Homo sapiens: one gene and its partners. The protein of the gene in region 1 interacts with the protein of each later gene in a biochemical or structural test. Each region holds a gene or a part of one and is shown in the gene's direction. Other genes may lie near its edges. The genes, in order: EIF4E, HHEX, XPO1, LRPPRC, TNPO2, CPEB1 and GIGYF2.

The links.
Region 2: the proteins of EIF4E (region 1) and HHEX form a complex in vitro, tested with the Homo sapiens proteins (one study listed by BioGRID).
Region 3: the proteins of EIF4E (region 1) and XPO1 form a complex in vitro, tested with the Homo sapiens proteins (one study listed by BioGRID).
Region 4: the proteins of EIF4E (region 1) and LRPPRC form a complex in vitro, tested with the Homo sapiens proteins (one study listed by BioGRID).
Region 5: the proteins of EIF4E (region 1) and TNPO2 form a complex in vitro, tested with the Homo sapiens proteins (one study listed by IntAct).
Region 6: the proteins of EIF4E (region 1) and CPEB1 form a complex in vitro, tested with the Homo sapiens proteins (one study listed by BioGRID).
Region 7: the proteins of EIF4E (region 1) and GIGYF2 form a complex in vitro, tested with the Homo sapiens proteins (one study listed by IntAct).

What each region holds. Positions count from the first base shown.
Region 1 is NC_000004.12:98,901,634-98,905,133, reverse strand, and holds part of EIF4E (eukaryotic translation initiation factor 4E), read left to right. Parts: intron 1-3,151; coding exon 3,152-3,258; intron 3,259-3,500. UniProt on the Homo sapiens protein: Acts in the cytoplasm to initiate and regulate protein synthesis and is required in the nucleus for export of a subset of mRNAs from the nucleus to the cytoplasm which promotes processes such as RNA capping, processing and splicing.
Region 2 is NC_000010.11:92,692,955-92,696,147, forward strand, and holds the end of HHEX (hematopoietically-expressed homeobox protein HHEX), read left to right. Parts: intron 1-1,592; coding exon 1,593-1,814; 3' UTR 1,815-2,693; downstream 2,694-3,193. UniProt on the Homo sapiens protein: Recognizes the DNA sequence 5'-ATTAA-3'. Transcriptional repressor. Activator of WNT-mediated transcription in conjunction with CTNNB1.
Region 3 is NC_000002.12:61,479,357-61,482,856, reverse strand, and holds part of XPO1 (exportin-1), read left to right. Parts: exon of another isoform or gene 1-230; intron 231-317; coding exon 318-477; intron 478-1,575; coding exon 1,576-1,672; intron 1,673-2,273; exon of another isoform or gene 2,274-2,532; intron 2,533-3,500. UniProt on the Homo sapiens protein: Mediates the nuclear export of cellular proteins (cargos) bearing a leucine-rich nuclear export signal (NES) and of RNAs.
Region 4 is NC_000002.12:43,975,490-43,978,989, reverse strand, and holds part of LRPPRC (leucine-rich PPR motif-containing protein, mitochondrial precursor), read left to right. Parts: intron 1-1,713; coding exon 1,714-1,835; intron 1,836-1,937; coding exon 1,938-1,996; intron 1,997-2,760; coding exon 2,761-2,847; intron 2,848-3,500. UniProt on the Homo sapiens protein: May play a role in RNA metabolism in both nuclei and mitochondria. In the nucleus binds to HNRPA1-associated poly(A) mRNAs and is part of nmRNP complexes at late stages of mRNA maturation which are possibly associated with nuclear mRNA export.
Region 5 is NC_000019.10:12,710,433-12,713,932, reverse strand, and holds part of TNPO2 (transportin-2), read left to right. Parts: intron 1-2,319; coding exon 2,320-2,380; intron 2,381-2,471; coding exon 2,472-2,637; intron 2,638-3,159; coding exon 3,160-3,312; intron 3,313-3,500. UniProt on the Homo sapiens protein: Probably functions in nuclear protein import as nuclear transport receptor. Serves as receptor for nuclear localization signals (NLS) in cargo substrates.
Region 6 is NC_000015.10:82,640,864-82,644,363, reverse strand, and holds part of CPEB1 (cytoplasmic polyadenylation element-binding protein 1), read left to right. Parts: intron 1-2,681; exon of another isoform or gene 2,682-2,739; intron 2,740-3,498; exon of another isoform or gene 3,499-3,500.
Region 7 is NC_000002.12:232,784,331-232,787,830, forward strand, and holds part of GIGYF2 (GRB10-interacting GYF protein 2), read left to right. Parts: intron 1-2,819; coding exon 2,820-2,999; intron 3,000-3,500. UniProt on the Homo sapiens protein: Key component of the 4EHP-GYF2 complex, a multiprotein complex that acts as a repressor of translation initiation. In the 4EHP-GYF2 complex, acts as a factor that bridges EIF4E2 to ZFP36/TTP, linking translation repression with mRNA decay.

The sequences.
Region 1 (3,500 bases):
ATATGGTAGGATTTTGCAGTAGAGTTTTGTTTTTAAACTGAATGTAAACTTAAAACTATTTAGTGTCTATAGGAAGCAATCTTAAAAATAAGGTTAGATACCTTAAAATAGAACTTGTTTCTTGAAATATTTTTTAGTTCCCATATAGATCATACGAAAAGATGACTGTCTATGCCCAATAAAAATTTTTATGGTATTTCACATCATTCGTTTTAAAATCTAGTATGTTTAAAAGTGAAGACTAAAGATTTTAAATTAGTATACTTACTGATTCATACATACACACATATTTAAAAATGTGTAGCTCCTTTTTTAAGTTGTTGGAAAAGTACAAAATCATGTGTCCTTTTTTGTTTTGTTTTGAGACTGAGTTTTGCTCTTGTCGCCCAGGCTGGAGAACAGTGGCACGATCTGTGCTCACTGCAATCTCTGCCTCCTGGGTTCAAGCAATTCTCTTGCCTTAGCCTCCCCAGTAGCTGGGATTACAGGCGCGTGCTACCACGCCCAGCTAATTTTTGCATTTTTAGTAGAGATGGGGTTTCACCATGTCGGCCAGGCTGGTCTTGAACTCCTGAGCTCAGGTGGTGCACTTGCCTTGACCTCCCAAAGTGCTGGGATTACAGGCGTGAGCCACCATGCCCGGCCGATTATGTGTTCTTGATATGAAGACTATAGTAATCAGTTACTTACAGTGGGACTTTTATTTTAATTCAAAATAACACTTTAAAATTCTAGGAACTGAATATGTTTTTCCTGAGTGATAACTTGCTTTTAATTCCTGTATGTCCAAAGACTTGAGAGAGAGAGAGAAAGAGGATTGTTTCTTTTTCTTTCTTCCCCTTTCTTCACTGGGTCTCACTTGCTGAGGCTGTTTTCGAACTCCTGGACTCAAGCAGTCCTCTCGCCTTGGCCTCTCAAAGTGCTGCAATTACAGACATAAGTCCCTGCACCCGTTCTGCTTACGTTTCACAAATACTGGGCAGTTGCAAGTTTTGGCTTAGCTGTTCTTCTCTGTTAGGCCAACCAGAGTTACGCTCTGAAAGTGCCAGTTTAGGAGTTAGCCAAAAACCTGTGAGGGATTTTTACATATATTGAGGAGCCCACTTCTCATCTACAGCAGTTTTTCTCTGGTACCCTGTCCCCCAAAGCCTACCTGCCTGCCAGTCTCTCATTGTTTTCATCGAGACTCCCACTGTCTGCCTGGAAACCCATCATTAATTTTAAGCTAGTGGGATAGGAAATGTCATTCAGTAATTATCTGTTTGAACACTTAAATTTACTGGTAAGTAAATGTTGATAAAAATGTTTGGTTTTAAGGCATTACTTACTGTATGTCAATTTTCAGGCCTTAATCATTCTGTGTAAACATTTAAATTTATTCAGTTAAGTAATCAAGTTAATAAGTTCCTGTTGGGTTAAGTACTGTGATTATTGAGTAAAATCAAGACATGGTCTCCGTTCTGGGTGACTTTATAGGCTAATAGAAATTCTTGTACATGTCATATGTTGATAAGAAAAAACATATCCCTTGGGAGGCCAAGGTGGGAGGATTGCTTGAGCTCAGGAGTTTGAGACCAGCCTGGCCAACATGGTGAGACCTTGTCTCTACTAAAAATAAAAAAGAATTAGCCAGGTATCATGGTGCCTATCTGTAGTCCCAGTTACCGTGGAAGCTGAGGCAAGAAGATTGCTTGAGCCAGGGAGATTGAGGCTGCAGTGAGCTATGAGTGAGACCCCATCTCTAAGAAAAATAAAATACAAAAAAAAAAAAAACCCATATTCTTTCAAATAAATATTTACCACCTTTCTGCTCTGCATTCTTTTAGACAATAAATATTTGACTTACATATCTTGTTATGTTAACATAGATCTCTGTTGTTTGCTGCTTCAGTCTGATATCCAAACACTTGTTGCATTGCCCTTTTTTTGGTATCAGTCTTTGTCCTAGTGCCTTTCTTTGGCTCTCTTCTTTTGTTGACAACAATTTATGATAGTATGAAGAGCTACATGGAAGAATGTGGTGAACACCTATTTTAAATTACTGCCCCCAGACTACTTTTCTTTCTGATATTTTTAGATGACAGTGTTAATTTTGTCTAGCCTAAAAGAAGATTTAAGTTCAAGCCAATGTCCATCTTGTTAGGTTCCATTGAAAATATTAAGTTGCCGAACTTTTAGGTTACGATAGGGTAAACAGTATGCCATGAAGGTAAGACCTGCGCATCATTGGCTTGATCACTTTACAAAGCTTTTTTGTCATCATAATGTTGTTTTGTTTTGTTTTGTTTGTTTTTGAGACAGGGTCTTGCCGTGTTGCCCAGGCTGGTCTCAAACTCCTGGGCTCAAGCAATCCTCCTATTAATCCTCCTATTAATCTCCCGAGTAGCTGGGATTGTAGAGACGCACCACAGTGCCCAGTGATACAGTTGTTATACTCTTGAAACTTTAGTTTCCATCCTGTATCCTTCCTGATACCCCCTTCAGTACCATATGCAGTATCTTAATATGATGGTATGTTAAGAAAGATAGAAGATTTTCCCAACTTTGTTGCATAGTCTGTGACAGTCTTCCTGCTATTTAAAAAAAAAAGTGCAAGTGGAAGGATAACTATAAATACTGTTATATTTTCAAATTTGAGAAACCGTTTGCTCTTTGCTCTTAATGAAGAGATATGAGAATAGAGAATGGTTCTTTAGAGTTTGGTCTGTGGTCTGTTTTATGAAGCAATCTGCTTTAATTCCTTCTTCTTAAAAAATACTACTAGTGCCGGGTGTGGTGGCTCACGCCTGTAATCCCAGCACTTTGGGAGGCCAAGGCAGGTGAATCACAAGGTCAGGAGTTCAAGACCAGCCTGACCAACGGGGTGAAACCCCGTCTCTACTAAAAATACAAAAATTAGCCAGGCATGGTGGCACACATCTGTAATCCCAGCTACTTAGGAGGCTGAGGCAGGAGAACTGCTTGAACCTGGGAGGAGGAGGAGGTTGCAGTGAGCCAAGATCGCACGACTGCACTCCAGCCTGGGCAACAGAGAGAGACTCTGTCTCAAAAAAAAAAAATTATCAGCATATCAGTTCAGGTTTAGTTAGAATATTGCTGTCATAGATGTGTTAAGACATTTAAAATAATGTTTTATATTATTTTCCACTAGGAAACCACCCCTACTCCTAATCCCCCGACTACAGAAGAGGAGAAAACGGAATCTAATCAGGAGGTTGCTAACCCAGAACACTATATTAAACATCCCCTACAGAACAGGTAAGCTTTCTAACACCTAGGTTTTCTGAGTTAGGCCACAAGGTAAATTGTGAATGGGGCAAGTTTGAAGGGAAAGTTAGATTATGAGACTAGTTTTAGATATGCTAAGGTTGAGGGTTCTATTTTCACTTGGATGACCCATGACCAGCAGACAGTTTTATGTGTGAGTCTTGAGTTCAAAAGGAGCTATGTGAGAGATTAGTTTGAAAAGTATTGGTCATAATGGAAGCCACATTAGTAAA
Region 2 (3,193 bases), on another chromosome or scaffold:
TATCAATTATGCTTGGGTTTTCACACACTGGCTAGTAAAACTCCCAGCTAATTGTTTTATAAATCCCATATGTTGTTTATCTAATTAACGCAGGAAAGATAAAGTAATTGACAGTAAATGACTTAAGCAGTTATCTTTGGGAGAAAATTGTTTCTTTTATTTACACAGCCATAATAAAACCAGGCAGAACTCAAGGGTAAATATAAAGAAACAAACACCTTTAAGTCTTGTTTGCACTGTTTTTTAGAAGAATTAAATGTCAGGGAGTTTAAAAATTATTTTCTATCTAATGCCAGCTCTTAAAATGAAATATAAAACTTGTAAGAAAATATTCAAGCCTGTTTGGAAAGTAGCTTAAACTTTCTGACAGTCTTTCTTCCAGTGACCTTGTTTCGCAATATGTGATAAAAAGTAAAGGCTAATTTAGTTTTTAAAAGAAGGTCTATTGACTTAAAGCTAAACATTCATTTTTGATGTCCTAATCTGGATATACTCTCCAAAGTTATCTGATAATTGCTGAATTGTTCACTTGTCATTGTATATACGGTTTATAATAAATACTTTGAAACAATGAGTGGAGAAATTTAAAGCAAAGTGGATTTTAAAATTTATTGATCATTACTTTTTCATTAAAAAGAAAGTGTCCCAAAGAATATTTTGAAATAGAAAATAAAATTCCCATAACTTCATTACTGTAATGTGATTTAAATATTTGCAGATCCACTCTCAATTTCTGACCGTGTGCATCTATTTGTTGAGACTATAAGGCTTGCAACTATATAACAAATAGATGTTGTAATATTTCTATGTAGTATTTATATGCATTTTAGACAAGTATAGGATTAAAAATTCACTAGCTTATATACTTAATAGTTCTTGGTCAAAGGCTTGACTCTAGTTTACCAGAGACCTTAAAAATAGTGGTTTCTATGTAATATGGGGATATTTCCCAGAAATTTGCCCCAGATTTTAAGTAAATTGTAGCTAATTGTCTACCTTCTCAGTTGGCAGCATTCTTCCAGATCCACATTTTTTTTCTTTGCCATGATTTTGTAACTTGTTAAACATTTACACATGTAGATGTTTATAAATTTACTCCAGAAAATGAATGAAAAAAGATCCAGTCTAATAATTGAAACTTTATTCTTAATTCACCAGTTAGCATTCTTATTTTTAAAATGTCTGAAAGACTGTTAATTGGCAAGGTTTAAATATTTAAAGAATGAAGTTAAGGTGTATCTGTAGTGATCTGATTTTCTTTCCCCCTTAAACTTTTGAGAATATTGAAACCATGGGTCTGGGCTGGTGTTAAGTAACCAGAATTTGTGTTCAATTGGTATAATGTATCTGCCCTTATGTTCATGACTGGTTCTCATCTTTTAAGCATATAATCTTTGATATGACAGAAACTTTTCTTCCAAAGTGAGCAAAAAGCACAAGTATGTATCTCCTGAATAAGATTATAAACTGAAAACACTCAGTAAACTAAAAATTAAAAGATGGAATAGGATGAAGAGACATTTTGATTTATTCCTCTCACCTATCCATATTTTATGATCCTTCCAATCTCCATTTTCATTTCCTTTATTCAGGAGAACCCTCAAAGCAATAAAAAAGAAGAACTGGAAAGTTTGGACAGTTCCTGTGATCAGAGGCAAGATTTGCCCAGTGAACAGAATAAAGGTGCTTCTTTGGATAGCTCTCAATGTTCGCCCTCCCCTGCCTCCCAGGAAGACCTTGAATCAGAGATTTCAGAGGATTCTGATCAGGAAGTGGACATTGAGGGCGATAAAAGCTATTTTAATGCTGGATGATGACCACTGGCATTGGCATGTTCAGAAAACTGGATTTAGGAATAATGTTTTGCTACAGAAAATCTTCATAGAAGAACTGGAAGGCTATATAAGAAAGGGAATCAATTCTCTGGTATTCTGGAAACCTAAAAATATTTGGTGCACTGCTCAATTAACAAACCTACATGGAGACCTTAATTTTGACTTAACAAATAGTTTATGTACTGCTCTTAGGTTGTTTTGATAAAGTGACATTATAGTGATTAAATTCTTCCCCCTTTAAAAAAACAGTTAGTGGTTTTCACTATTTATAAAAAATTAATTTTGAACTTTTTGTTAAATTTTTAAGTTATAGCTTTAAAGGTTTTAATAGGACCTTCTTGAACGACTTTTCTGTAATCTGTTTATCTCCCACTTAATGGAAAGGCAAAGGGGTACCCCAAATCCAGAGGTGCCTACATTTCAGGCAGCCTTGGAGTATTTTAAAAGGAAAACATTCTTTACTTTTATATGACATTCTTATACTGCTGTCTCAAATCCAAAAACATTTCAGAGCTCTTGTCTCAGAGATGTGTGTTCTTTTTGTCAGAGATATGGTTGATGAGAATCTTAAATGCTTGTTTTGCACTATCACTTAGTACCTGTTTGACCAAGGTGTTAAGGGGATAGTACCTCCCAATTCAAGCAGAGAAACTGACCTGACTAAAGTTAATCGCAGATGAACTAGAAGTCACAGGTTAATTAAATGTAAGTAGATTGTAGATACTGTTTTATATCAAACAATGTTTATAATGTGTATATAGAATTGTTCACTGTAAAAAAAATGGCCAAAATGTGTTTTTTTTTTAATAAGTAACTTGACTATAAAATAAAGCCGTCCGTGGGACGACTGACCTCGTTGCAAGTCTAATTCTTTGATTTTAAAAAGTCTGCACACCTTTTCTTGACCTCCTGGGTGCTTGGCGCGGTGCTGGGCTCTGGGGACAGGAAGTGACTGGGGCTGGATCTTGCTGGGGCTCTCGTTCCGAGTCCCAGGACCGCGGGTGGGTGCCTGGAACGTGGGTTGGGGCCTCTCCCGGGCCGTTTGCCTTGGGGCTCTGCTCCTGCCGGCGGATTCTGAGCCTGATGGGTTCGAGTCCCGGGCACGCCAGGCGACGGGAAGAGCCGAGGCCCAGGCCCGCTGCGCCGTGAAGCGCGGGGCCGTCCGGACCCCATCGATTCTCCTCGGCAGCCGGGCTGGCCCTCGCCGTCCTTGACCGGCTGAGTCAACACCGCGTCATCCCTCGGCGGCCGGGGCTCGGGAACCCGCTCCGCGCGGCGGGGCCCGGGGTGGGGAAGTCCGAGTGGGGGGATGGGGGGCCCTGGCCGAGGGGAGCGGGGAGGTGGTTTGCGCTGAGAAC
Region 3 (3,500 bases), on another chromosome or scaffold:
GGTCAGGAGTTCGAGAACAGCCTGGCCACCATGGTGAAACTGTCTGTACTAAAAATACCATAAAAAAATAAAAGATACAATAAAAATACTGGGCATGGTGGCATGTGATTGCAATCCCACCTATTCGGGAGGCTGAGGCAGGAGAATGGCTTGGACCGAGGAGGCAGAGGTTGCAGTGAACTAAGATTGCGCCACGGCATTCCAGCTTGGGTGACAGAGCGAGACTCCGTCTAAAAAAAAAAAACAAAACAAAAAAAAACGCTAAGATCTATAGTTATATTACATTTTGGAGTTAATAATTTTCTTCTTATCAACAGGTTTAACAATGCATGCATCAATTCTTGCATATATGTTTAATTTGGTTGAAGAAGGAAAAATAAGTACATCATTAAATCCTGGAAATCCAGTTAACAACCAAATCTTTCTTCAGGAATATGTGGCTAATCTCCTTAAGTCGGCCTTCCCTCACCTACAAGAGTAAATATACCTTTTAATAAACGTAGAATGTTCCTGGTCGGGCACAGTGGCTCACACCTGTAATCCCAGCACTTTGGGAAGCCTAAGGTGGGAGGATTGCTTGGGCCCAAAAGTTGGAGACCAACCTAGACAACAAAACAAGATCCCGTCTCTACAAAAAAAAAAGTAGTCAGAAGTGGTATGCATCTGTAGGACCAGCTGTTGGAGAGGCTGAGGCGAGAGGGTTGTTTGCATCCTGGAGTTTAAGACTGCAGTGAGCTATGATCGCACCACTGTACACCAGCCTGGGTGATAGAGTGAGACCCTGCCTCTTTAAAAAAGCAAAAAAAAAAAAAAAAAAAAAAAGGCCACGCACGGTGGCTCATGACTGTAATCCCAACACTTTGGGAGGCTGAGGTGGGTGAATCACAAGGTCAGGAGTTCAAGACCAGCCTGGCCAAGATGGTGAAACCCCGTTTCTACTAAAAATACAAAAAATTAGTTGGGCATGGTGGTGGGTGCCTGAAATCCCAGCTACTTGGGAGGCTGAGGGGGAGAACTGCTTGAACCCAGGAGGCAGAGGTTGCAGTGAGCCGAGATTGTGCCACTGCACTCCAGTGTGGGTGACAGAGCAAGACTGTCTCAAAAAATAAAAAGGCTGGGCACGGTGGCAAACGCCTGTAATCCAAGCACTTTGGGAGGCCTAGGCGGGCAGATTACCTGAGGTCAGGAGTTTGAGATTTGCCTGACCAACATGGAGAAACCCTGTCTCTACTAAAAATACAAATTAGCCGGGCATGGTGGTGCATGCCTGTAATCCCAGCTACTTGGGAGGCTGAGGCAGGAGAATAGCTTCAGAGGTTGCGGTGAGCCGCGATTGTGCGATTGTACTCCAACCTGGTAAACGAGCAAAACTTTGTCTCAAAAATTAAAAAAAAATTCTTGATTAAAAAAAAAAAACATTATTGGGACGCTGAGGCAGGAGAATGTCTTGAACCCGGGAGGCAGAGATTACAGTGAGCAGAGATCATGCCACTGTACTCCAGCCTGGTGACAGAGCAATACTCTGTCTCGGGGGAAAAATAAATCATTATTTAATCATTGTGTTTTGATTTGCAGTGCTCAAGTAAAGCTCTTTGTGACAGGGCTTTTCAGCTTAAATCAAGATATTCCTGCTTTCAAGGAACATTTAAGAGATTTCCTAGTTCAAATAAAGGTATGTATTTATTTGCTCTTGCAGAAATATTAGGGGTAGATGTGACCACTTTTATGTTACATTGTAGAATTTTTATCACTTGATTTGTCATGCCAAATAAATGGGGTTTCAAGATAATACGTTTACACAATCTCTGTAATCAAAAAACCTGAGACTGGTAATACAGTGAAAAACTAAAGTCCAATAAGGATAGATATGTTTGAGATGTTATTCGGATAAACTTATTACTAATGTAATTCATTTTAGGTAGTCTTAAATGTATAATGGAATATTGGGTAAGAAAAACGTTGGTAGTTCTTTTTATAATTTTATACCAATTTTGTTAGTTGAGGGAACTTGTGAAAGTTACTAGATAGAATGTCTTTCTTCTGCTGTTATACAGTGCTTTATTCATACTTTTGGGAAGGGTTTTTCTTTGAACATCTTGCTTTAAAGAAATTTGGAAGTACTGTGAAACCCTAAGTAGTTGATGAATAGTTTATCCATGATTGTTGAATAAGAATTAGTCTCTTAGCTCTTAAATATTTTCTCCAAAATACAAAGGTTTTTTTTTTTTACTGTAAAAATATTAGCCAATTTTTAAAAAACTAATGAAAGTTACCTAGGCTGGGCGCAGTTGCTCATGCCTGTAATCCCAGCACTTTGGGAGGCCAAGGTGGGTGGGTCACCTGATGTCGGGAGTTTGAGACTAGCACGGCCAACATGGTGAAACCCCCGTCTCTACTAATAATACAAAAATTAGCCAGGCGTGGTGGCGCACAGCTGTATTCGCAGCTACTTGAGAGGCTGAGGCAAGAGAATTGCTTGAACCCACGAGGCAAAGGTTGCGGTGAGCCGAGATCACGTCATTGCACTCCAACCTGGGTGACAAGAGTGAAACTTCATCTCAAAAAAAAAAAAAAAAAGTTAACTGATAGCTACGAAGTCAATGATAATATAACTAAACTTAATTTAATGACAGTTATTAATTAGCCTTAGGAGAAACATCTTTCTTGGTATCTTGGCATATGAAGAATTTTTAGCTGGGCACAGTGGCTCACACCTGTAATCCCAGCACTTTGGGAGGCCGAGGCAGACAGATCAGTTGAGGTCAGGAGTTCAGGATCAGCCCGGCCAACATGGTGAAACCTCATCTCTACTAAAAATACAAAAATTAGCCAGGTCTGGTGGCAGGTGCCTGTAGTCCCAGCTACTCGGGAGGCAGAGGCAGGAGAATCACTTGAACCCAGGAGGCAGAGGTTTCAGTGAGCTGAGATCATAACACTGCACGCCAGCCTGGGCGACAGAGCAAGACTGCCTCTCAAAAGAAAAGAGAAAAAAGTGTCTGGGTGCAGTGGCTCATGCCTGTAATCCTAGCACTTTGGGAGGCCGAGACAGGTGGATTGTCTGAGCTTGGGAGTTTGAGATCAGCCTGGGCAACATGGTGAAACTACGTCTCTAGTAAAAATACAAAAAATGAGCCAGATGTGGTGGTGCCTGTAATCCCAGCTGCTGGGGAGGCTGAGGCAGGAGAATTGCTTGCATCTTGGAGGAAGAGGTTGAGATAATGTGCTGGGGCTACAGAACAAGACTCTATCACAAAGAGAACAAAATTTGTGTGAATACATAGTAGGTGTATATACTTAGGGGATGGGATGCATGAGATACTTCGGTAGAAGCATACAATGCATAATAATCACATTGAAGACTATTTACTGTAAGGTATCACACCATTTTTTTTGTTTTTTTTGGGGGGGCACAGTCTCGCTTTTATCACCCAGGCTGGAGAGCAGTGGCGTGATCTTGGCTCACTGCAACCTCCGCCATGCAGGTTCAAGTGATTCTCCTG
Region 4 (3,500 bases), on another chromosome or scaffold:
ATAAGATGTGAAACAATACAAGAAGTTATTATTTTTAGATGATGTGATTGTTTAATCTGCAAAATCCCAGAAAATCAGCTCACAGTAATTAGCTGGACTCACTAAATGTTTAAGAATCCATACCTCTTCTAGTTATAAAAGAAAATAGAGAAAAGAATCCAAGAAAGTATAGCTACAGATAAATAAAATATTTAGGACTATCCTTCAAAAAGTGAGTAGGACCTATGTGAAAAAAACTACAGGATAAAGACAGATTCTTCCTTCACAGTTTTGAATACATCTAGAATACATTTTGATAAGTTGATTTTTTTTTAAGTTAAAAACTATATAGATAAATGTTGACTTTCAGAATGGAAAAGGATTTTATAAGTATAAAAGGAGCAGAAAAGTAAAGCTAAAATATTGAATCTCTAAAAATTAGAAATTTCTGTATGTCAGTAAGTCATTGAACTGGGAGAAATATATGCAGAAAAGGTTACATTCTAAAATAGAAAAAAGCATTACACAGCAGTAATAACATTAATTCCTCCATATAAAGATTAACAATGTGTTATTATATTAACATTCTTTACAGATAGGTCTCTCCTGTATAAGTGTCTGCTTTATAAGGATGGAATCCATGGCTTCTTTATTTTCCTGTTTGACAGTAGCATGATGCTTTGTGTATAATGGCATTTGATACATACTTGTTGAATTAATATTGCCAGAAACCTTGTAGTTTGCCAGTTTGACTCTTGTTTACAGATTTATAAAGATACAAGAGATCTTTTAGCTTAAGTAACTTGTCCAAAATTACAGAATGAGCTGTTGACAGATCTGAGCTATCTGTAAGATGGGGCTGATAATAGTGTCTCAAAGTTGTTGTGAAGTTTGAGTGAGCCACTATATGTGGAACACTTAGCATAGTGCCTGAAACATAGTATGAAAGAAACATATCTGTTAAGATAAAAATGTGTATTAATTTAATGGAACAGCTCTCTGCTGCCTAAAATCACATACTCTCACCCCCAGATACTAACCATAGGCCTGTATGGTCACAGGCAGTTGAATAAAGATGTGAAATTTAATGCATGAAAATGTAGTGAGACATGTTACCACAAAATTGATATAAAGACCATGATGTCATGACTCAGTAGAGTAAGGCTGTGTGGTAACCTTATTTGATGTGGCCCTAAACAGTAGGGATACAAAGAAAACAAAGGTCATTAGAATACAGATAATTAACAAGAGCATACCATAGATCATGTTCATCAGCTGAAAATGGAATGCATCCTTAAAATGAAGGCTTTGAGTGACAGAATTGCCAGCACAGTCCTACTGTGTGAAAGAACTGAAGTTACAATCCATTCTTCACAGTGTGTCTGTAATGTGAGGACTGCTTTATATAGAAAAATCTTACAGTCACTTTTAAATATAGGGATATTGTCAGCGTTTTCTAACAGGAAGATAATTTTGTGCTTCATAAGTAAGAGGCCTTTTAATATCCGAATAGGCAGTTACTTGTAACTATACAGTAACTCAGTAATTACTGTCTTACATGCTTAGCTTGCTCTGTGTGACAGAGTATCTGTGTAGATAGGTCTGAGCGCCAAGATGGATGGGTGAAATGCTAAAGTGATAGTTTTACTCTTTTTGTTTGTTAAATTTAGGTCCACTTTAAAGCATAGGATTTTCAATGCTTTTCTAAAAATTCATTTTAAATTTCATTTGTAGGTGCTGTGTATGATGTGAGTCACTATAATGCTTTACTTAAAGTCTATCTTCAAAATGAATATAAATTCTCACCAACTGATTTCCTGGCAAAAATGGAGGAAGCAAACATTCAACCAAATCGAGTAAGTAGTTGCTATTGTGAATATATTTTCACATCCACCATTTTTTTTCTTTACTCAGAAAAAAAAGTATATTTAAAATTAACTGGCCCATTTCATTGACAGGTGACATACCAGAGATTGATTGCTTCTTATTGTAATGTAGGAGATATTGAAGGTGCCAGGTATGGATCTGTATGAACATGTTTAAGCGAACAAATTTGTACATTTTGTAAATCTAATGTCTGTTCACTCTTTGTTTTAAAGCTTCTTCCTAATGGAGGAAATTGTTTCAGAACTGTTTTAATCTAGAAAATCTGGTAATCTGACTTACATAAAATATAAAATTATCGTGTAAGAGAGAAAAGATAAGTAAAAGTTGCTATTTTAATTAAAAATTTGATTTACTGGAGAGAGGTATAAAGTTGTTGAGCTATAAAGCTGACTTTGCTTTTTTTTTTTTTTTTTTAAATATTTCCTAAGGGAAATGTTCTTAACCATTTAAGCTGTATTCATTTATAAAACTGGAAGTAGTGTAGAAAATCAGTTGCACCATTTCTCTGCTTATGTAAAATTTATTACTACTTATGAATGGAAGGTTTGGAAAATAAGGGATAAATTGGAATACATAATTTCATTTTTATCTAAAAGAATCTTATGAAACTATGCTTTTAAAAGGGTAATTAGTAGTGTAAGACAAATCAGATAATCAGATTTTTAAAAATCTAGTATTTGTATCGATAGTACTTCAAGACTGTTGATACATTAGAGAGTGGGGTTTTGTGGGAAGGGGATCAAAGGGATTAGTTCTTTCTTTGTGGTTTCTAAAACAAATGTATATTACTATTATATTTTAAAAACAAAAGTAACTCAAGGCCTAATTCTGTACATGTTGTAAAGAGTGTTCTTATAAATACTTTCAATGAGTATCTTCGTTTTTCCTTTGCAGCAAGATTCTTGGATTTATGAAAACTAAGGATCTCCCAGTTACAGAGGCAGTATTCAGTGCCCTTGTGACAGGGCATGCCAGAGCTGGGTAATGTTCAACCTAAGGTTTTGGTTCTTAAGTGATAGATGGCTGAGATGCTAAAGTGGTCATTTTACTCCTTTTTTGTTTGTTAAGTGGGGTTTAAATTAGAGAAAATTATTGTAGACAGTTCTTAAAATACATTTGTCTATCCCTTCAAAAAAAAATCTGTAGTATATGAGGTAGAGCATACTAATATTTTTATAATGAGCTTTTACATTTGTTCCACAAATCTTTCTTTTATTTGAATTTTTAGAAATTGGGCTTGAAGCCGGGCGTGGTGGCTCATGCCTGTAATCCCAGCACTTTGGGAGGCTGAGGTGGGCAGATCACCTGAGGTCAGGAGTTCAAGACCAGCTTGGCCAACATGGTGAAACCCGGTCTCTACAAAAATATAAAAATTTAGCCGGGCATGATGGCAGGTGCCTGTAATCCCAGCTACTTGGGAGTCTGAGGCAGGAGCGTTGCTTGAACCCGGGAGGCAGAGGTTGCAGTGAGCCGAGATTACACCATTGCACTCCAGCCTGGGAGACAGAGCAAGACTCCATCTCAAAAAAAAAAAAGAAAAAAGAAACTGGGCTTGATCTGATCTGAAGTAACTGCTCTGGAAAATATTTTTATTTTTGAAGAGTAATTTACTAAATGTTATTCTTACCTCGAAA
Region 5 (3,500 bases), on another chromosome or scaffold:
TCAGCCTCCCAAGTAGCTGGGATTACAGGCACATCCCACCACACCTAGCTAATCTTTTCTAAGTTTTAGTAGAGATGAGGTCTTGCTAAGTTGCTCTGGCTGGTCTCGGATCCCTGGCCTCAAGCAGTCCTCCTGTCTTGGTCTCCTAAAGTGTTGAGATTACAGGTGCGAGCCACTGTACCCAGCCCCCAGATCATTATTATTATTATTTTGAAATTTCTGTTTTTGAGACGGAGTCTCACTCTGCTGCCCAGGCTGGAGGGCAGTGGCACAATCTCGGCTCACTGCAACCTCCGCCCCTCGGGTTCAAGCGATTCTCTTGCCTCAGCTTCCTGACCTTGTGTTCTGCCCACTTTGGCCTCCCAAAGTGCTAGGATTACAGGCGTGAGTCACCACGCCCAGCATATTGTATGTTTATTTATTTATTTATTTATTTATTTATTTATTTATCATTCATTAGAGGTGAGGTCTCACTATATTGTCCCAATTGGTCTCAAACTTATGGGCTCAGGCAATCCTCCTGCATTGGTCTCCCAAAGTGCTATAATGACAGGTGTGAGCCCCTGTGCCCGGCCCCAAATTATTGATAACAGTCTAGGGCTGGGCAGACGGCTCCTGGGGAGTGATGAGACCTAGATGAGCAGGTGATGAAGGCTCTGTCACTTACAACTCTGGGCTGCAGCTGAGGGGCTGGCTGCCTAGTCTGTTTGCTCCCCTACTCTGGCTAGTCTCTGCCCTATCTCAGGAAAGTGGCCAGGAATAGGACCGCATGTCCCTGCCTTAATGTTGTGCTAGGGACCAGGCACTGTACCAAGATTTTCAGTGTATTCAGGGGTCTATAATCCACTGAGTGGCCAGGCCTGGGTCAAGAGCTTTCCTGCAGGCTGAGTGCCATGGCTCACGCCTATAATCCTAGCACTTTGGGAGGCTGAGGCAGGAGGATTGCATGAGCCCAGGAGCATGAGGCTGTGGTGAGCTGTGATCGCACCAGTGCACTCCAGCCTGGGTGATAGGGTTACGTAGGGACCAGCCCCACAGGGTCGGTGGGTCTCTTCCTGTGTGCGGCGATGAGAGAGTGTAGAAATAAAGACACAAGACAAAGAGATAATAGAAAAGGCAGCTGGGCCCGGGGGACCACTACCACCAATGCGCGGAGACCGGTAGTGACCCCAAATGTCTGGCTGCGCTGTTATTTATTGCATACAAGGCAGAAGGGGCAGGGTAAAGAATGTGAGTCACCTCCAATGATAGGTAAGGTCACATGGGTCACGTGTCCACTGGACAGGGGGCCCTTCCCTGCCTGGCAGCCGAGGCAGAGAGGGAGAGTAGACAAAGAGAAAGACAGCGTATGCCATTATTTCTGCATATCAGGGACTATTAGTATTTTCACTAATTTACTACTGCTATCTGGAAGGCAGAGCCAGGTGTACAGGATGGAACATGAAGGCAGACTAGGAGTGTGACCACTGAAGCACAGCATCTCAGGGAGACGGTTAGGCCTCCGGATAACTGCGGGCAAACCTGACTGATGTCAGGCCCTCCACAAGAGGTGGAGGAGCAGAGTCTTCTCTAAACTCCCCCGGGGAAAGGGAGACTCCCCCACTTTCCTGGTCTGCTAAGTAGCGGGTGTTGTTCCTTGACACCTTTTGCTACCGCTGGACCATGATCCGCCTGGTAACGGGCGTCTTCCCAGATGCTGGCGTCACCGCTAGACCAAGGAGCCCTCTGGTGGCCCTGTCCGGGCATAACAGAAGGCTCGCACTCTTGTCTTCTGGTCACACCTCACTATGTCCCCTCAGCTCCTATCTCTGTATGGCCTGGTTTTTCCTAGGCTATGATTATAGAGCGAGGATTATCATAATATTGGAATAAAAAGTAATTGCTACAAACTAATGATTAATGATATTCATATATAATCATATCTAAGATCTATATCTGGTATAACTATTCTTGTTTTATATTTTATTATACTGGAACAGCTCGTGTCCTCTGTCTCTTGCCTCGGTGCCTGGGTGGCTTGCCGCCCACAGGGTTAGACCCTGCTTCTTAAGAAAAAAAAAAAAAAACCTTTCTCTGGAGGCAGGAGTGGTATCATTTATATCCTAATCATAGCGGCAGAGACTAGATTCCGATAATTCCCCAGAGGGAAATGGATCAATTTGCACCTAGCAGTACCATCATGCTCTGCAGGGTCTGCTCTGTGGCTGATTGGGGGGCTGGTCACTCTGTTGGCACCTGTTTGCCTCCTCCCCAAGCTGTGCCTCCCCCCAACTTTTGCCACGGCCCCTGCATCCCCATAAACAGTCCCTCTCTGTGCAGGTTGATCCCCATCTTGGTGAATGGGATGAAGTACTCGGAAATTGACATCATCCTGCTCAAGGTCAGGCAGGGCCCACCCAGCATGGGTGGGCATGGGCGTGGGTGTCGCGGCTGTGGTCCCCAAAGTACTTAACAGTCTGCCTGTCCCCCAGGGGGATGTGGAGGAGGATGAGGCTGTCCCCGACAGTGAGCAGGACATCAAGCCACGCTTCCACAAGTCACGCACGGTCACACTGCCCCACGAGGCTGAGCGGCCTGATGGCTCCGAGGACGCGGAGGATGACGATGATGATGATGCTCTGTCCGACTGGAATTTGAGTGTGTGCCCCTGCCTGGGGGTGGTGGTGGGGTGGCAAGCCCTGGACTCCCTCTTGGGAGGTGACTAGAAGCTGAGGCAGAAGCTGATTAGAAGCTGATCGTGGCCGGGCGCAGTGGCTTACGCCTGTAATCCCAGCACTTTGGAAGGCTGAGGCGGGCGGATCACGAGGTCAGGAGATCAACACCATCCTGGCTAACACAGTGAAACCCCGTCTCTACTAAAAATACAAAAAATTAGTCGGGCGTGGTGTCGGGCGCCTGTAGTCCCAGCTACTCGGGAGGCTGAGGCAGGAAAACGGCATGAACCCAGGAGGCGGAGCTTGCAGTGAGCCGAGATAGCGCCACTGCACTCCGGCCTGGGCGGAAAAAGTGAGACTCCGTCTCAAAAAAACAAAACAAAAAAAAAGAAGCTGATCGTGAAGATTCTGAGCATGATCTCTGATCCTGGGAGTGCAGTCAAGGAGGGTCGGCCACCTGCCTGAGGGGCCGCCCTGAGCCTCCCCATTGTTCCCCCTTCCCCAGGGAAGTGCTCAGCGGCTGCACTGGACGTCCTCGCCAATGTCTTCCGGGAGGAACTGCTGCCCCACCTACTCCCACTACTCAAAGGCCTCCTCTTCCACCCCGAGTGGGTGGTCAAGGAGTCGGGCATCCTGGTGCTGGGCGCCATTGCTGAGGGTGAGTGCGCCTGATCTCTGAGCCCTGTGCTGGCATGAGACTGTAGGGCTGGCCCACATTACTAGCCACACCAATGCCTCAGTTCTCCCTGGAGGCCTACTCACCCCACTCCAAACAGCTCTGAGATCTCAATTCTCCCCTTGGTTCCTGGGCCTGAAAGGAACCCCTGGAGCCCCACAGTGCAAGGC
Region 6 (3,500 bases), on another chromosome or scaffold:
CTGGTGCCGTAGCCCAGCCTATTATGTGTGTTCTGTTATGTCAAAGGATCAAGGGGTTATTGGTGGCGTACATTCTAGAAAAAAGGTGGTGGTCTGGGAGCTGGTCACATTTATAGGCAAAGTGAACCTTAACTGCATTGGCAGGAATCCCAGTTGCTGTAGAAGTCAGTGTGGGTCTTCTGAGTGTTAGTACAGCAGTGCTGATGTTAGGAGGAATGTGCTGTGTCTATCATTCCACAATGTATGTCAGAGCAGTTAGCTGATCCTGAGAGCCGGAGGTCTGGGGAAGGCAGGCTCCTCCCACTGTGGGGGTGACCCTCCCAACCCTCTGCACAAAAGGCTCCTTTTTTTCAGGACAGTTAAAATTTCAGTACTAACTTTTTCTGTCTGAGGCAAGGCAAATTTGAAATTATATAATTGTTTTAAGACCTGTAAAAGTAACATGGAGCTTACTAAATCTCACCTTGTCTGTCTTAGCTAAGATTCCCATAATGCTGTCTCTTAGATTTCCAGGAAGAATTAATAAAGGTTAAAAAAAATTTTTTTAAAGCAGTCTGTGGTAAAATCTGAGATAAGCTCCCGGGGCATAAAATAGCCCTGCCCCAGAAATGAGGGGCTGGGGTTTCAATTCTGGATAAAACTTAGAATCCCAGCATTGTACACAGCCACACTTACGGATGTAAAGGGGTATGTACATTTTTTTTTTCCTATATTTCATTTTCAAGGATTTTTTTTTTTTGAGATGGAGACTCTGTTGCCCAAGCTGGAGTGCAGTGGCACAATCTCGGCTCACTGCAACCTCCGCCTCTGGGGTTCAAGCAATTCTTCTGCCTCAGCCTCCCAAGTAGTGGGGACTATAGGCACGCGCCACCACGCCCGGCTAATTTTTGTATTTTTACTAAGATGGGGTTTCACCATATTGGCCAGGCTGGTCTCGAACTCCTGACCTCGTGATCTGTCCGCCTCAGCCTCCCACAGTGCTGGGATTACAGGTGTGAGCCACCGTGCCCAGCCTCATTCCCAAGGATTTAAAGGAGTAAAAAGCATATTCAGAGCTTTTGCCAAAGAATTTTTTTCTGTGAGAATGTAAACTCAGACACAAGCTAGATAGCTTTCTTACCTGTATCCTGGAAAGTTTTTGGAAAGATGAAAACTTTAAAATGTTACCTGCCTCTAGCTGCTTCTTAGCAACCTTTACCAGCAAGGCACTCAGCTATGAGTTCAGTGTTTGTGGATTTGGGGGTGTGGAGTGTGCTGGGGAGGGGAAGGGTGAGGTGACTAAAGTAGCTCTCTGCTGGTGTTATTTTTGCATTTATAACGTTAGGTGTTGTCTGTGCAGGCTTTCTCATTCATTGGTTTCAGGTCCCTTAGCTAAATGATTATTTTCTAAAGTTATGTTTATTTTAAGGGAAAATTAGAGTATTAGTACTTTTGGCTTACAGTTTGAGACAGAAATGCACACCAAACCTAAATATTAATGTTTACACTGTTTTTAGTAGCTAGTATTGGAGGCAGTAAAAGAATCATGGGATCAAATAACAAATTATTTTCTCTGCTATGGAGAAGTTGTGCTAATCTCATCCTGTTCTGCAAATGTGCTTTTCCTAGGCGGTATATAAACTGTACTGACTCTGGGGAGAATTTGCCAGAAAGCCCCTGAGGCTAAAGGGTAGGACGTGGTTTGCACCTAGAAGTTATGGTAGAGGGGGTTATGTAAGAATTTTGCTTCTCTTGTTTGAATTAAGACCCAGAAGCACTGATTGCACCCTTTACCGTTTCTTAAGCCTTTTAAGATTTTATTATTAAGGTTTTTTTTGAGACAAGGTCTCACTGTGTCACCCAGGCTGGCGGGCAGTGGTGCAATCACAGCTTACTGCAGCCTCAAAGCTCCCTGGCTTAAGGGATCCTTCAGCCTCAGCCTCCGAAGTAGCTAGGACTACAGCCATTCAACATGTTTGGCTACTTTTTAAAAAATTTTTTCTTTGAGATGGGGTTTCACTATGTTGGCCAGGCTTATCCTCGGCTCAAGCCATCCTCCTGCCTCAGCCTCCCAGAGTATTGGGATTACAGGTATGAGCCACCATGCAGGCTCTTAAAGCTTTTTGGTCACCATGAACTTTGCTTCCTTTGCACCCAACATTGCAGTTTTGGAAATGCCCTTAGTTTTTTCCTGCCGTTGTTGCAGCCTGCTTTAGAGCGTCTCATCTTCTGTGAGCACAGATTCCGTAGAAAGTTTTTATGTTGAAGATAGGACCTGCCCCAACAGTGCATTTCTCAATTATAGTAAACTAGCTGAAAAAGATTGAACTAAAACATGTATGATGTAATATTTCATATTTTCATAGGAAAATTATCTGACTTGCTGTAAAAAGTTAGTATCCAAATTTCAGAGTGCTAAATTCACATTGTAGATGTAATTTCCAATGAATTTTATTAGGTGTCATTTTAAAGCCCAATGTTAGGGATTATTTTGCCACCCTAATATATAATGTGGTTTTGATTAACTTGGACCTGGGAGGATTCCTGACTGACTGGGGTTGAGCTTTACTTTCAGTAGTTCAGGAGAACACTTAGGCATGGATAACCTTTGAATTCTTTTTTTTTTTTTTTGTATTCTTGAATGGTGGAACAGTCCTTTTAAATTATAGTGAGTTAACACTCTTTGTTTTGATTTATTTAAGGCATTCGTGATGAGTTCCCCTGAGGTAACAGGAGAATCCCCAGAGGGCAGGTCTAAAGGTTGGTTTGTATGCTAAAAACGGGTCTTGGTTGCAAGTAGCTATTGATTTTAGGAGTAACTTGACTAAGAGTGTTACTTGTTTCTTTATTCTTGGCCAGCATAATATGCTGCTTTATGTACCATCCTGACAGATTTAGCCCCACTTCCTACAATCCCCTTTGATAAAAGTGTGGGAGTAGCTCTCCTCTGTTGGAAGAGAACAGTTACTGTGAAGGGCAGGTTGGTTTTTTTGTGTCTTTTTACAGAACACTTAATCTCTTACTACTTAACACCTGTGCTCTCTGCATTCTGGCTTTGTGCTCCTGGGTTCTGGCCCTGACACCATCTGTCTGTCTCCCATGTGTCTGCCCTTTCTCCTGAGGCTTTTTGTTTTTGTTTTTGTTTTTTTTTAAAGCTGTAATCTTGGAATTGTTGTGAAGCTCAAAAGGTGTTAGAGACCTGTCTCCTACATATAACTTGGAGTTGACACCAAAGCCAGATATAATCTCTGACATCCTCTTTTCATGGACTAGGAGAATTAAGTTTAGAATGGAAAGTGATTACCCTAATTTTATACTGTGAGCAGGGAATAGAGACAGAACTTGAACCCACGTTTTCTCATTTCTAGACTAGTACTATTTGTAAAATTCATACACTCTTACCTCTGCTGTGTTGGTCTCTTATTGTACTTGAAATGTCCATTTGGTTTGTAAGACTATGGCTTCCTTTTTTTTTTTTTTCCTTATCTGATCAATCTTGTCTTGTCTTGGTACTTGCAGGC
Region 7 (3,500 bases), on another chromosome or scaffold:
TAGCTGAGTGTGGTGGCATGTGCCTGAGGTTCTAGCTACTTACACGAAATAATTTCTTTTTTTTTTTTTTTTTTTTTGAGACGGAGTCTTGCTCTGTCACCCAGGCTGGAGAGCAGTGGCGTGATCTGGGCTCACTGCAAGCTCCACCTCCCAGGTTCATGCCATTCTCCTGCCTCAGCCTCCTGAGTAGCTTGGGACTACAGGCGCCCGCCACCGCGCCCGGCTAATTTTTTCTATTTTTAGTAGAGATGGGGTTTCATCGTGTTAGCTTGATCTGACCTCGTGATCTGCCCGCCTTAGCCTCCCAAAGTGCTGGGATTACAGGTGTGAGCCACCGCGCCTGGCCACAAAATAATTTATAAAAGCTGCAATATGGTTTTTGATATATCAGATATTACATAATAACTACAATAGATTTAGATTATGACTTCTCTGGTAAACCAAGTGATATAGTTTGGATGTTTGTCCCCTCCAGATCACATGTTGAAATGTGATCGCCAGTGTTGGAGGTGGGGCCTGGTGGGAGGTGTTTGGGTCATGAGGGTGGATCCCTCATCCCCTCCCCACTGTAATGAGTTCAAGAGTCTGGGATCTCTGTCATCTTTCTTGCTCCCTCTCTCACCATGTGACATACTTGCTCTCACTTCACCTTCCACAATGAGTAACAGCTTCCTGAGGTCTCACTGGAAGCCAGACAGATGCTGGTGCCATGCTTGTATAGTCTGCAGAACCACGAGCCAAATAAACAACTTCTTCTTCTTTTTTTTTTTTTAATAAATTACCCAGCCTCAGGTATTCCTTTATAGCCATGCAAAATGGACTAATAAACCAAGGAAAGCCAGAATATAGTTCTGACATTCCAGACACGTCCTGCAGGTAAGAGCAAGGTCATAGATAATAAAACCCTTGCTTGGTGGTTCAAAACAGCAAACATTTATTATCTCAGTTTCTGTGGGTTGGGAATCTAGAAGCAGCTTAGCCTAGCTGGGTGGTTCTGGCCCAGGGTTCTTGTAAGGCTGCACTCAAGGTGTCAGCCCATGCTGCAGTCTCTCAAAGCTCAACTGGGGTTTGATCCACTTCCAGACTCACTCATGTTTCTGGTGGTAAGTCTCAGTTCTTTGCCATGCAAGCTTCTCCACGAGGTCTGTGTCACTACATGGCAACTAGTGTCCTTCAGAGAAAGTGTCCAAGATGGAAACTACAGTCTTCTTTAATATTTTAAGTGGCATCTCATCACTTCAGCTGCATTCTGTTAGTCCAGCTTATAATTGGGGGTAGAGGATTCCACAGAGATCAGCAGTCAGGGATTGTTGGTGAGCTCTTAGAGGCTGTCCACCACAATAAGAAAGCAGCAGATCATGTCTTCCATTCTCCCAAGATATTTTATCTTTCAGTAGAATGATACCTAGTAGCAGACTAACAACCATATGGACAAGCAGGATGCTGAATCTCAATATATGTAAGATGGAATATAACAGAATGACCAGAAATTAGAATTTCATTTTCATATGCTGTTGTTCAATTATTTTTTCACTTTTAGTATGGATTAATTAAAAGGATTGAGTTTGTCATTATGAGAACTTGAACTTTTATTGTTATAAACTGAGGACATCAATGTATGTTATTCTGGATTTTCAACTATTTTGATGTGAGATTTTATAAATGTTATGAGTTATATATGTTAGCACATGTGGAATGGTGACTGAAGAATTTGTTTGCACAATTTAGAATGATCTTGTCCTTTTAAAATACCAGTTTAGTTTACTTGGTATACCAGGCTCTCTTTTGACATTAATGTAACTTTTGAGACATTAGGTTAGACATAGCTTAGCTTTAAATTCTGTCCAAAAGCAATTTATGGTATGCCTGTATTGTATTAGGTGCTAGAGTAAATGAGGTTATACTACTTTTCAATTTTTTTTTTTGAGACGGAGTCTTGCTCTGTCACCCAGGCTGGAGTACAGTGTCGCGATCTCTGCTTACCGCGACCTCCGCCTCCTGGGTTCAAGCCATTCTCCTGCCTCAGCCTCCTGAGTAGCTGGGATTACAGGCACTTGTCACCACACCCAGCTAATTTTTGTATTTTGAGTAGACATGAGGTTTCACCACATTGGCCAGGCTGGTCTCCCAACTCCTGACCTCGTGATCCACCTGTCTCGGCCTCCCAAAGTGCTGGGATTATAGGCGTGAGCCACCACGCGGCCTGCTTTTCAGTTTATAATCTGTTTTGGAATGAAAGACGGCCTGAAATGTACAGATATCATGTTTAGGCAGAATCACCAGTAGGTGTTGGTTATATAAAGTATGTTGTATGATGAAAAATATCTTATAACTTTAAAAAGTATGTGCTAGTAAGGAAGGATTGGCAAGATACACTGTTAGTGAAAACAGCAAACAAAACAACATTTATAACATCCTGAGGGTGGCGTTTGTGTGTGTGGATGAGGGAGCTATGTATACATGTGTAAGTGTACCCATGGACAGTGTTTGGAAAGACTTTATAAGAAACTTGGTGATGGTTCCTTCTGGGGAGTACGACTCTGAGGGTCTTGTGTAGGAAGATGGACTTTTCATTGTACGCTTTTTCAAAAAAAATTTTACATAATATTTTTGTTTAAAAAAATTGCCCAGTCTCTGAACATGGCTTTAAGAAATGTGTCTAATAATATATACATATACCCACTGTTATTTTAGTGATTTTTTTCTGAATATTGAAATGGACCCATTTGCAGGAAAGCTTGATTTGAGCTGTGAAGTTTGTTTTCAAAGCCTATACTGGCAGAGGCTCATGTTTACTTACCATATTATTTTCTTTATAGGGAGACCAAATTTTGAGGAAGGTGGACCAACATCAGTAGGGAGAAAGCATGAATTTATACGCTCAGAAAGTGAAAATTGGCGCATCTTTAGAGAGGAACAAAATGGAGAAGATGAAGATGGAGGTTGGCGACTAGCTGGATCAAGGAGGGATGGAGAGAGGTGGCGACCTCACAGTCCTGGTAAGAATTCTGTTGAGTAAAGGCACACAGGGACTGAAATAAGGGAAAGTTTGATGGAAATAGGGATTAAATGAAAAAGATAAACTGGCTTAAAAAATGTGGGGGTGGATTCATATTATTTATGCTGTCACAGTTTTATTACTAGAAAAAATTGCAACATAAAAATTTCCTACATCTATTCAGTTGATTGAAATCACTTTTCTATTTTTCTGGGGCAAATAGTGTAGTTTAATGGGAAGCACCTGCGCTCAACTGCAGAAATGAGGGTTTCATTCAGTTTTGTCTACCTCTAAATCTCTGAATCTTTTTTAGCATTCTTTAAGATTTATAAATGTGTAAAAATTACACACTTGAAATATGTGCTTCCCTCCCCAACAATGAGTGTTTTTCCTAACAAGAAAGGGTTTATTCTTTCATTTTTTCCCTTTTGAAAATGTGATTTAACCTTATTTGAAGAATAAGCTTTAAACCTAGGTCAGAAACATAATCACAAGTTCATTC